3 linked regions of the Homo sapiens genome follow. The protein of the gene in region 3 purifies or fractionates together with the protein of the main gene of each other region. This does not show direct contact. Each region holds a gene or a part of one and is shown on either strand. Other genes may lie near its edges.

Region 1 (3,653 bases), on a different chromosome or scaffold from region 3:
AACTTACTCTCTTCCACCCTTTTATTGGAAATCCCTGGACTGAAGACAAGCAATGGGTGCCCCCTGCTGACTATAACGAAGTCCTACGATATGTAACCGCTTTAGCTGGTTGGGGGTTGGGAATCAAACTAGAAACAGGTATATTTTTGGAGAACTTCAGGCCAAACATGAAGAAGGGGATCTCCTTTTAAATAGTCAAGGAATCTAAACTAGCCCTGGCTATTCTGACGTTTAAAGAAATTTCTAAACGCTTCCCATTTCCTTGCCATCCTTCCCTAACCTTGTCTTATAATTTAGGCACAAAAGGCTAAAGTTTAATGTTTTACTTGAAATCCAATGCCATCAAGAAAGTAGTACTCTCCATCAACCCCAGTGTAATGACTTCCTCCCCATTACCATTCTGAAGCACAGTCAATGCAGTGCACATCATGGCAGAAAGGGAACCCCAGACGGGAAGTTTCCTTCCATTCTATTACAATTCCCTTAGGCAACTAAACTCAAGCGCAATAAATAAACATCGAATTCTGGGATGCATGGGAAATTTCCACTCTTCACTGAGAAATTTCTCTCCTACCCAATCACATAAACAACATTCCCTGAAATACAGAGACCCAGAATCTTTTTGTACATACTTCAGTCTAACCACAACTATCCTCTAAAAATCAAAAACGATCACCCCACCCACTTCAATTTCCTTGTTTCAAAATTCATTAATAGAATTAAAGCCCCCTGAACAGAATGCACATTTTAAATATTCTATGAATAATGAACTTCAAACTTTCGAACCTCTATTTTTTAACCCACAGAAGCCAATTATCATGGTATTCACTTGATCTTCTTTCTTGTTCCAGAAATCCCCATAACATTTCTATTTTAAAGCTATCTCACAAAGTCATTTTTTCAAGGCACTATATCTAATTATAAACATCTTATGATGGAAAGATAACTAAATGGCTTTAGAAAGTAGTATTTGATAGGCTGGAAAGTAGTATTTGATAGGCAGGTGATTACTGGCTCACACCTGTAATCCCAGCACTTTGGGAGGCCAAGGCAGGTGGATCGCTTTGAGCTCAAGAGTTTGAGACCAGCCTGGCAAACACGGCGAAACCCCATCTCTACAAAAAATACAAAAAAAGAGCTGGGTGTAGTGGCTCGTGCCTGTAGTTCCAGCTACTCAGGAGGCTGAAGCTGGAGGACTGCTTGAGCCGGGAAACGGAGGTTGCAGTGAGCCAAGATTGTGCCACTGCACTCCAGCCTGGACAACGGAGTGAGTCCCTGTCTCAAAAATAAATAAATAAAGGGATATTTGACAAAAATCTATCAAGATGTTAAATGTACATCCTCTGTGATGCAGCAAATCCACTGCTAGGAATTTACCCTGTGGGTATACTTGTGAGTATAAATAATTAGAAAAGGACATGCAGAACTACATTTTTTTTTAATGAATAATCTAAATGTCCATCAACAGAAGACTGGTGAAATAAATTACTGTTTATCCATAGAATGCAATACTATTAAATGCTAGAAAGAACAAGGTTCTAAGTTGATAACTAGTAAATCTGGGTGATAGGTAGATGAGAGTCTATTACACTAGTCGAACTTTTGTATATACTTGTAATTTCCCATAATAAGCTAAACAAAAAGAGACCACTTCCTAGGATAATTATCCTGACTTTACAGGGTCTACTGAGGATAAAATGACAGTACATGTAAAACATTCAGAACAATGCCTAGCATATAACTCTTAAGAACAATGCCTAGCATATAACTAACACTTACATAAGAAAATGATGATATAAAAAATTTCCAGATGTGAAAAAAAATCAAGTGTGCACAGTGTGTGTATACGTGTATCTATATATACACATACATACATATACACATGTACAGACCCCATATATAAAATCTTCCAAAAGTATGTACTGTTCTAAAAACCTCAGTAAAGTCAGATCTGAGAATGGATACAAAGAGTACTTAATTCTTAATTGATATACTCCACTATGTACTGACTTTTTACTTGTAAATACACTGCCTTTTATAATTAAATGCACTAACACAACTATGAGGAACAAAAATGTTCAAAGTTTAGGACTCAACGGCTCTTAATGTACTATAGTACAAAATGGCCAGACATTTGTGGAAAAAGCCCCAAATTAAAGATGTTTAGGATCACCCTTGTGGAACAGTTTAAACAAATCAAGATCTACTTTCCATTCTAGCACTTTGTCCTCCCATCCTCCACTGTAAATCAGAAAGCAAGAGAGAACAGAGTGCTACTTCAGAAACATAACCTCTACCCAACACCCTCCTCCCTTACAAAACTCCTTTATATAGAGTGTCACACTTTTTTTTTTTTTTTTCCCGAGACAGCTGTGGCTCCCAGGCTGGAGTGCAGTGCCACAGTCTCGGCTCACTGCAACCTCCACCTCCCAGGTTCAAGCAATTCTCCTGCCTCAGCCTCCCAAGTAGCTGGAATTACAGGTGCCCTCCACCACGCCCAACTAATTTTTGTATTTTTAGAAGAGACAGGGTTTCACCATCTTGGCCAGGCTGGTCTTGAACTCCTGACCTCGTAATCCACCCACCTCGGCCTCCCAAAGTGCTGGGATTACAAGTGTGTGCCACCGTGCCTGGCCTCAGTTTTACACTTTTCCAGAAAAGTGCAAAACTCTTATGAACAGTTAACAGAATGGGCCGGGCACGGTGGCTCACACCTGTAATCCCAGCACTTTGGGACGCCAAGGCAGACGGATCATTTGAGGTCAGGAGTTCAAAACCAGCCTGGCCAACATGGTAAAACCCTGTCTCTACTAAAAATACAAAAATCAGTCGGGCAGTAGTGGCACACACCTATAATCCCAGCTACTCGGGAGGCTGAGGCAGGAGAATTGCTTGAGCCTGGGAAGCAGAAGTTACGGTGAGCCAAGATCACGCCACTGCACTCCAGTCTGGGCAACAGAGTGAGATCCTGTCTCAAAAAAAAAAAAGTTAACAGAGTTTACACAGTTTTACACTGCATACAGAATTGTACAGATTCTCTATAGAGTAACAGAATAATCTATTATGGTGACCCTACAAAAGAACAACAAAGGCTAGGAGAATTAAACTATGTCTGGTCTTGAAGTCACCTGGTCCTCATTACCTATTACATAACTCAGAGACAATTTGCTTTACTTCACTGGGACCAAGTACTTTGAAGTAGTCCCTTCTAAAAAACAAAAAAATGACCTAATCAGAAAGGAAAAGGCCAATGGGAACATGTAAGAGGTAAACAAAGTTAAACATTAAATACATTAAGAAAAGAGCTGCCTGCTCTGTACTCAGATTATAAAAAAGGGATAATTACACATCAACAGTTTTTTCAGGGGGTTCTTCCTCTTTGACAGGGAGCTCAATGGGCTTTGTTTCTTCTTCCTAAAACCAAATGAAACAAGGTGGTTAACATAAATCTAAAGAATAAATATCTATCAAAAGAAGAACATCAGAACTCCAAAATAAACCAGTCTCTCAGAACCTTCATACCCATCTTATGCTCCCCTAATAAATTTACATCTAAGTCCTCCAATGACTGATGTTAAAGCAATGTGGCCAAAGCAGTGGCACATTACCAGAGACTAACCTTACTCTATCCAACTCACCTCTGTTTCATCTCC
Region 2 (3,653 bases), on a different chromosome or scaffold from region 3:
CCTTGGTATAAAATATCTACACTTTTTAAAAAAATACACAGGAATATGGGTACTATAGTAAATTCAAGTTTCTGTTTATTTTGATTTATGTGCTGTTTTTTTTTTTCCAAGTCCTGTAAGGAGCTGAATAAGTATTAAATTCTGGCATAGTAACAAAACAGAGGAGGAAATGATAACAAAAATAATATAGGGGAAAATAATAGAACACAAAGCAATAGCAAATGCTCATTTCAATAGCAGTGCTTTAGAGAAACTTCAGTTTTGTCTTTGTGAAAGTAAGAGAAGGGTTCAGAGATTAAACATTATTATTCTGTTTGGATTGTTCACTTCTTTTTTTTTAAACTTTAAGTTCTGGGATACCATGTGCAGAACATGCAGGTTTGTTACATAGGTATACACGTGCCATGGTGGTTTACTGCACCCAGGATTGTTCACTTCTTAGAGATCCTTTGCTGTGCTTTAACCTTTATTCCCATCTCCCTACTCCCTATCCATTTCAGCTTCTAAGTGTATCTCAGATGTAGTGGAGTTAGGTGTTAGAGTCAGACACACCAGAGTTTGAATACTAGCTCTGTTACTTTTTGTGTATTTGACAAAATTAATCTCTCTCAGCCTCTTTTTTTTATATATCTGTAAAGTAGGGATAAGAACCATTTCAAATGAATGCTCTGAAGATTAACTGGAATAATTGTGTGTTTGTGAATAAATATAAATGAAGCTGTTCTGAATGTTTTCCATACGTATATATGCCTCCATCCCCTCATTCCCAGTGCATGACCTTGGCATTAGATCAGACAGTAATCGTTTAACCAGCCTCTAGTCTCCAGTGAAGTTCTCATTGCCTTGGGAGTCATTTTTAAATGACTACATTACAATACATCTATACTTTCTAAAATGTAGATCTCACCATCTCTTCAGGATAAACTTTAAGCAACATTTTCTCTTTTAAAGAAGGCTTTTAATGGTCTGTCACAGTCTGCCTCTCCAGCCTGCTTTTCTGTTACTGTCTCCTTTGTTAGTTTTGTTAGTGCCAGACCCTTATTCCCTGACTGTCCTATCCTATTCCCCTTGCCCATCTACTGGACTTGTATTCAGCACTGAAAATCTGACTTATATTTTACTTCTCTTTGAGACATTCTCCTCTTCCCTCTTCCCTCCCCACAACCCTCAGAATAATCATGCCGTGGCTCGTAGAGGCTGTGTGCCATCTCTTTGGTCCATTTGTATCTGTATTCTTAGCACTTAGTATCAGGATTTGCCCGGAGGTGTTGAAGCTGGCAATCATCCTTCCATTCCAACAAGAATAAATATAATTTATCACATATATGTATGAAATAAATGTATTTAATATGTATAATAAATGTTGAAGGTTTTTAAAGAAGTGATGGAATTTGTAACTAATTCATGGAATTTATAACAGTTCAATTCATTATATGCTATTGAAGTAGCAGTCTCATTTTTAATCTCAGAAACTGTTTCTTTCATAATTCATGTTAAATTAAGAAGTCATTTGGGAATTTAAAAAGCATCTGGACTTTCCTCCCTGCCCCCCTTCCACAACTGTCTGTGAATAAATTGAAAGAGGAAAATAGTGCTTACATAATCTTAAACCTTTTCTTTTGACATGTCTTGGAATATTTAATTTCTATTATTGTGATAATACAAGTAAAACAAAATTATACTACAGGATTTATAGATGTTTACTTTTTTTGAGGAAAATCACTCAAAACAATAAGCTTTTAAACCCAAACTCAACAATCATTGCTTTTTGTTCTTAGTGATAGTGCTTGTGCTGATACAATATGATCAAAATATTTGGCCAGTATTAGGAAATGTCCTAGAGATGATTATAATAGTAAGAGCCAGTCTTAATTGGTAAGTGCCAGATATGGTGCTAAGCTCTTTAATTCTCATGACTACCTTAGGAGATAGGTACAGTTTTCTCCCCTTGCCCTTTCGTGTGTGTGTGTGTGTGTGTGTGTGTGTGTGTGTGTGTGAGAGAGAGAGAGAGAGAGGATCTTTCTCTGTTGCTCAGGCTGGAGTGCAGTGGCACAATCACAGTTCGCTATAGCCTCAACCTTCCTGGCTCAGGAGTAGCTGGGACCACAGGCGTATGCCACCACACTCTGCTAATTTTTAAATTTTTTGTAGAGATGGGGTCTCGCTATGTTGCTTTTGGTTGTTGCTTAAACATCTTGGGCACAAGCAACCGTCCTGTCTTGGCCTTCCAAAGTTCTGAGATTACAAGAACCACTGTGCCTGACCTGTCATCTCCATTTTTAGATGAGAAATTGAGACTTAGATCTTCAGGTCACTTTATTAGTAACTGGTGAAGCCAAGATTTGAGACTGATTCCAGAGTACAAGCTATTTCATGAGATAGTGAATACTGGTTAAGTTACCCTGTTGGCTTTTCTTCTAGTAGACAAGTACATTCCTTTATCTACCAGGATTATTTGATCCAATTCTACACTGAAATAGATGAAGATATTTGGGCTCAGATAAGTTACCTGCCCAGGTTCATAGATAGATCTCAGAGCTTGATCAGGAGCCTTAGCTTTCTTCTTCAGGTACTGATGCTTCTACTCTGCTGTGTTGCCATATTACCTCCTTTGTTGGAAATGATTTACTTTCTGAGTGTAGTGCTTTGAGGAATTTTAGTAAACATAGAATTCAAATTATTTAATTTTCACATATATTAAATTGATATGAAAAAAGATAAAAATCACAGCTTTAGTTTTTTTTTTTTTTTCTAAAATTAAAATTCTATGTTTCCCATTTGTCAAGGTAAGTCCAAATTAGGGGAATGTGCTTTTTGTGGAAAAATGGATTTTATTTTTTCTTTTGGACTACTGATATAAATCAAGTTGCTAGATTTCATTTAAAATATGTATATGCATTTTATTCATGTTCTTCAGATGTTTCATTGAAAATATTTTCCCATTAATTCTGATTTCTTGAGTTGTCCTAGGGATGGCTTTTGTTTTCAAGAAACATTTTAAAAATTCACTTTAATTAGAAAAAGTAAATTTCATAAGTTATTAGGATCTTTCTAGGCATTTATTAAATGAGTTAATATGTATGAAATTCTTAGCACCACTATCTGACAACATAGTTAACCTTCAGTAAAGATTGGCTGTTGTTTTTGCTGTGATAGTACTGATTTCGAGAAAGAAAAATTAACAGGAAATGCATATTAGGGATCAGAAGCAAATTGTTTTGATCAACTTTTTCTTGTGGTCTGCAGTCTGCTTTATTACCTGGAGCTCAGTAATAAGGCCAGCCAAGTTGTGTTGGTGATTCACCCATAAGAATTTAATGTGATCATCTTTTTTACATATTGGTCATGATCCTTGACAAGTTTAATTTACTAATTGGGATAATCAGTTGAAATTAGTTCTTTTTGAATCACTCATTGCTTAATGCGAAAGATACTACTGCTTAAAAATAGTAGTTTATTTTACTCTTATAAAGACGTATGTGAAATAAATCTTAAAGCTTCTATGTATTTAAAGGGCAAAAGATTTTCAGACCAGTGAGATTGGCAGCTCATTACCAGCTAAATTACATTTTATGGAAATTTTATGTGCTTGAAAAAGGGATTAAATTTAATCTCAAAATAATCTCCTTTTCAGAAGTGACTTGAATTTAGAC
Region 3 (3,653 bases):
TGCCCAGGCTGGAGTGCAGTGGCACGATCTCGGCTCACTGCAACCTCCCCCTTCCTGGGTTCAAGCAATTCTCCTGCCTCAGCCTCCTGAGTAGCTGGGATTACAGGCACCCGCCACCACGCCCGGCTAATTTTTTTATTTTTAGTAGAGATGGGGATTCACCATGTTGGCCAGGCTGTTCTCAAACTCCTGATCTCCTGATCTACCCACCTTGGCCTCCCAAAGTGCTAGGATTACAGGCATGAGCTACCGCATCCAGCCACACTTATGACTTTTATAAAGAGAACAATCTCATGTTGGCCTCAAAGCAAGCAATGTCTGAAAGTGTCTTTGAGAGAAGCATGATTAGGTAGATGCAGGGAGTATATAGACATTTCTGTCTGTGCTTCTGCTGCCTCTTCCCTTCCCCTCGTTGCTCGTCGTGCCATATTCTGGCCAGGTCTTAACTGCCTCAAAAGGGGCCTATTCTTCTCACCAAATTTTGGGCTTAGCAAAATCTTCAGGTCACCTAGTCTAGCCCCTGATGGGAAGGCTGAATTCTGTTTATCCTATTTATCTACATTACTTGTCACACTACAGGCACTGAGGAAATGGTACAAACTTACTAGAAGTTCAGGAAATTGTACTTCATCTTGGTTTTAAGGAGTAATTAATCTCCTACCATTTGGTTCCATAAACGTGGGTGTGACAGAGGAGGGGAGGAAGAGCAGCTGTGAGCCTGCAAGTCCCTGTAGAAATCCTTTTCCCTCTGATTCTTATTCTCAGATCTTCTTACCTAGGGAATTTTTTTTTTCCTTTCCTGTCCCAGGGATCTTTCTTTCATCAAGGTGATAAACGTGGGCCAGCGATTTTTAGTCAACAGAGTCCAGGACTACATCCAGAGCAAGATAGTCTACTACCTCATGAATATCCACGTCCAGCCTCGCACCATTTACCTTTGCCGGCATGGAGAAAGCGAGTTCAATCTCTTGGGGAAGATTGGGGGTGACTCTGGCCTCTCGGTGCGGGGAAAGCAGGTGAGTAATTATTCAGCACACTGGATTTTCTAGGCTTAGAGTTAGAAGGGCATGACTGAGGTCATATATTTTATCTCCTTACTTAAATCCCATTTGGACGTAGGCTGTGGTTTCATAGTCAGGCAAGTGCTCAAGGTGTGTTCTTGCTCACTGCGTCTAGCTCTGTGTTAAAGAGTAGATAACTTTGACCCATTTCTGCTGTGATCATTCAACCATCAGATATTCATTGGGCACAACTTGTGTACTTAGCAATGTACAGGGTGCTCCAGTTAAAGTTCATTTCCTTTTGGGTTTATATTAACTATGTAGCACCTTATGGATTTTGACCATGGTTATGCACGTTGTCCCTTACAGACCAAGTTAGCAGGCTTTGTGTATGTGTGTGTTGAGTGTGTGTGTGTGTGTGTGTGTCTGTGTGTTTTCTTTTTACCCTTAATTTTCATTTTTAAACCCCAGTTTGCCCAAGCTCTAAGGAAATTTCTGGAGGAACAGGAAATAACAGACCTCAAAGTGTGGACAAGCCAGTTGAAGAGGACCATACAGACTGCTGAATCTCTCGGGGTGCCCTATGAGCAGTGGAAGATTCTGAATGAGATTGATGCTGTGAGTAGGAAGCTCTGAAGGCCCAGAAAAGCCAACAAGAGTTCAGGCAGGAACTCTCAGAAGTCACTATTTAGACAGTTTTATCTAGGAAACTACAACCAACAAGTAAAAACTCTGAGGAAGCTGACTCTATGGCCAGCCCGGGGGATCAGGGAGGACAATTGTACCCCTAATCAGGGGTTTCCTGCCTGATTCAGTACCTGTGCCAATCATGGGACCCAAACCAATTTTTGAGCCAGCCTTTCTGGCACCTGGGGAAAGTAGGGCTAACAAGGACTCATTTTGTTCCTTTGTATATTTGCCTCCTGGGAAAAATAAATAGCTAACAACCCACTTCTTTGCTTTCTGCTTAGATCATTTGGTCAGCTATTCAGGAAAAGTTTTTCCCAAAATTTCTCTTGGCTTTCTCTCTTCTTGAGTACAAAAGTAGACATTTCTTTCTTTTTTTTTTTTTGTGACACGGAGTCTCGCTCTGTGGCCCAGGCTGGAGTGCAGTGGCGTGATCCTGGCTCACTGCAACCTCTGCCTCCTGGGTTCAAGCAATTCTCTCCCTCAGCCTCCCGAGTAGCTGGGATTATAGGCACCTGCCACCACGCCTGGCTAATTTTTGTAGTTTTAGGGGAGATGGGGTTTCACCATCTTGGCCAGGCTGGTCTTGAACTCCTGACCTTGTGATCCACCCGCCTTGGCCACCCAAAGTGTTGGGATTACAGGCATGAGCCACCGTGCCCGGCCGACATTTCTTTTTCTTTCCTTCCTTCTACCCTTTTATTTTTCATGCAAGGTCTCCAGTCCCTTCAGTTTCCCTCCTTCTCTGCTTCCTGTTCCTTTTAGCCTCTTGACTTTCTTGACCTGTAAGTTCCCCCCAGTAGTAGGAGAATGTGGTAGCTTGAGCTAGAGAAGTTGCCTCTTTCCGGCAGTGGTCCTCACCCGGTGAGTCACAGACACTCTGTGACACTCTGGTCACAGGCAGCTGCAATACATGAAAGGACCCAGCACAGTGCCTGGCACGTACTAAGAAACTAGCATTCTTCAATGTCATCTTCCTTATTTGGGATGGGGCTGGTGTGGTACAGTCTATCTCTTCAAGCCAGCTTCAAGTGGCTTTTTGCAGGGTGTGTGTGAAGAGATGACCTATGCAGAGATTGAGAAACGGTACCCAGAAGAGTTTGCACTTCGAGATCAAGAGAAGTATCTGTATCGATATCCTGGTGGGGAGGTAAGACGCCCCTGTCATGTAAAGTGACTGCCTAGACCCTTGCTGAGTGTTTAACTTTAATTTGGGGGAAGGATTGAATGTGATTTGGAGGGTCTAGGCATCATTTATCTTCCTTCCCTTGGGTCATTTTGGTTTCATTCAGCTTAGACAATCGAATGCCTCATTAATTGTTAAGATTCCCAGGGATAAGGGTGACAAGGCATCCTCTGTTCAGTATGTTTTAGAATCAACACAATCATTTTTACTTCTTTTTTTCCTTGTACTCTCTCAATCCCACCCCCACATAAGTAAGTGGAGTCACCAAGTAAATATATGGGATAGGAATTATTTCCCTGTCATCTTGAGTGTTTTAGGCTATTTCCTTGTCTAAGTGGCTTCCATACTCTAGGGATGTGTGAGGCAAAAGTAAATAAAACTGAATGGCAGAGGTACAGGAAACCCCTAGGAGTCTCTTGTCTCACTGCCTGTATTAATCTGTGGGAAGAAAAAACACACACACACAGGTTGAACTCACACTTCCTCTTCTTAACCTGTAGTTTTCTTGGTCTAAATATTGCTTTTGAAAGATCTGAGTTTTCTCAAGAGATACCAGGGCTGGGGGCAGTTAGCAGGTGATGTAAACTCACTGAGCCTCCAGGAGGAAAGCCAGCTGAGGAAGAAGAAGTGGCCCTTAGTCTCCAAGGTCCAGCCACTGACTTGGCTGCCAGCTTGCACCTGGGCTCCTGCCAGCCTGCCCCATTTCCCTCCACAGTCATACCAGGACCTGGTGCAGCGGCTGGAGCCTGTCATCATGGAGCTGGAACGTCAGGGCAATG

What was found.
Region 1: the proteins of PFKFB2 (region 3) and SARNP purify together in Homo sapiens (affinity purification with mass spectrometry; one large-scale study listed by BioGRID and IntAct). This does not show direct contact.
Region 2: the proteins of PFKFB2 (region 3) and RAB3IP purify together in Homo sapiens (affinity purification with mass spectrometry, with the first as the bait; one large-scale study listed by BioGRID). This does not show direct contact.

The regions. Positions count from the first base shown.
Region 1 is NC_000012.12:55,797,216-55,800,868, forward strand, and holds part of SARNP (SAP domain-containing ribonucleoprotein), read right to left. Parts: coding exon 3,639-3,653; intron 3,415-3,638; coding exon 3,347-3,414; intron 1-3,346. UniProt on the Homo sapiens protein: Binds both single-stranded and double-stranded DNA with higher affinity for the single-stranded form. Specifically binds to scaffold/matrix attachment region DNA. Also binds single-stranded RNA. Enhances RNA unwinding activity of DDX39A.
Region 2 is NC_000012.12:69,745,336-69,748,988, forward strand, and holds part of RAB3IP (rab-3A-interacting protein isoform alpha 1), read left to right. Parts: intron 1-3,653. UniProt on the Homo sapiens protein: Guanine nucleotide exchange factor (GEF) which may activate RAB8A and RAB8B. Promotes the exchange of GDP to GTP, converting inactive GDP-bound Rab proteins into their active GTP-bound form.
Region 3 is NC_000001.11:207,066,691-207,070,343, forward strand, and holds part of PFKFB2 (6-phosphofructo-2-kinase/fructose-2,6-bisphosphatase 2), read left to right. Parts: intron 1-808; coding exon 809-1,016; intron 1,017-1,472; coding exon 1,473-1,619; intron 1,620-2,733; coding exon 2,734-2,838; intron 2,839-3,589; coding exon 3,590-3,653. UniProt on the Homo sapiens protein: Synthesis and degradation of fructose 2,6-bisphosphate.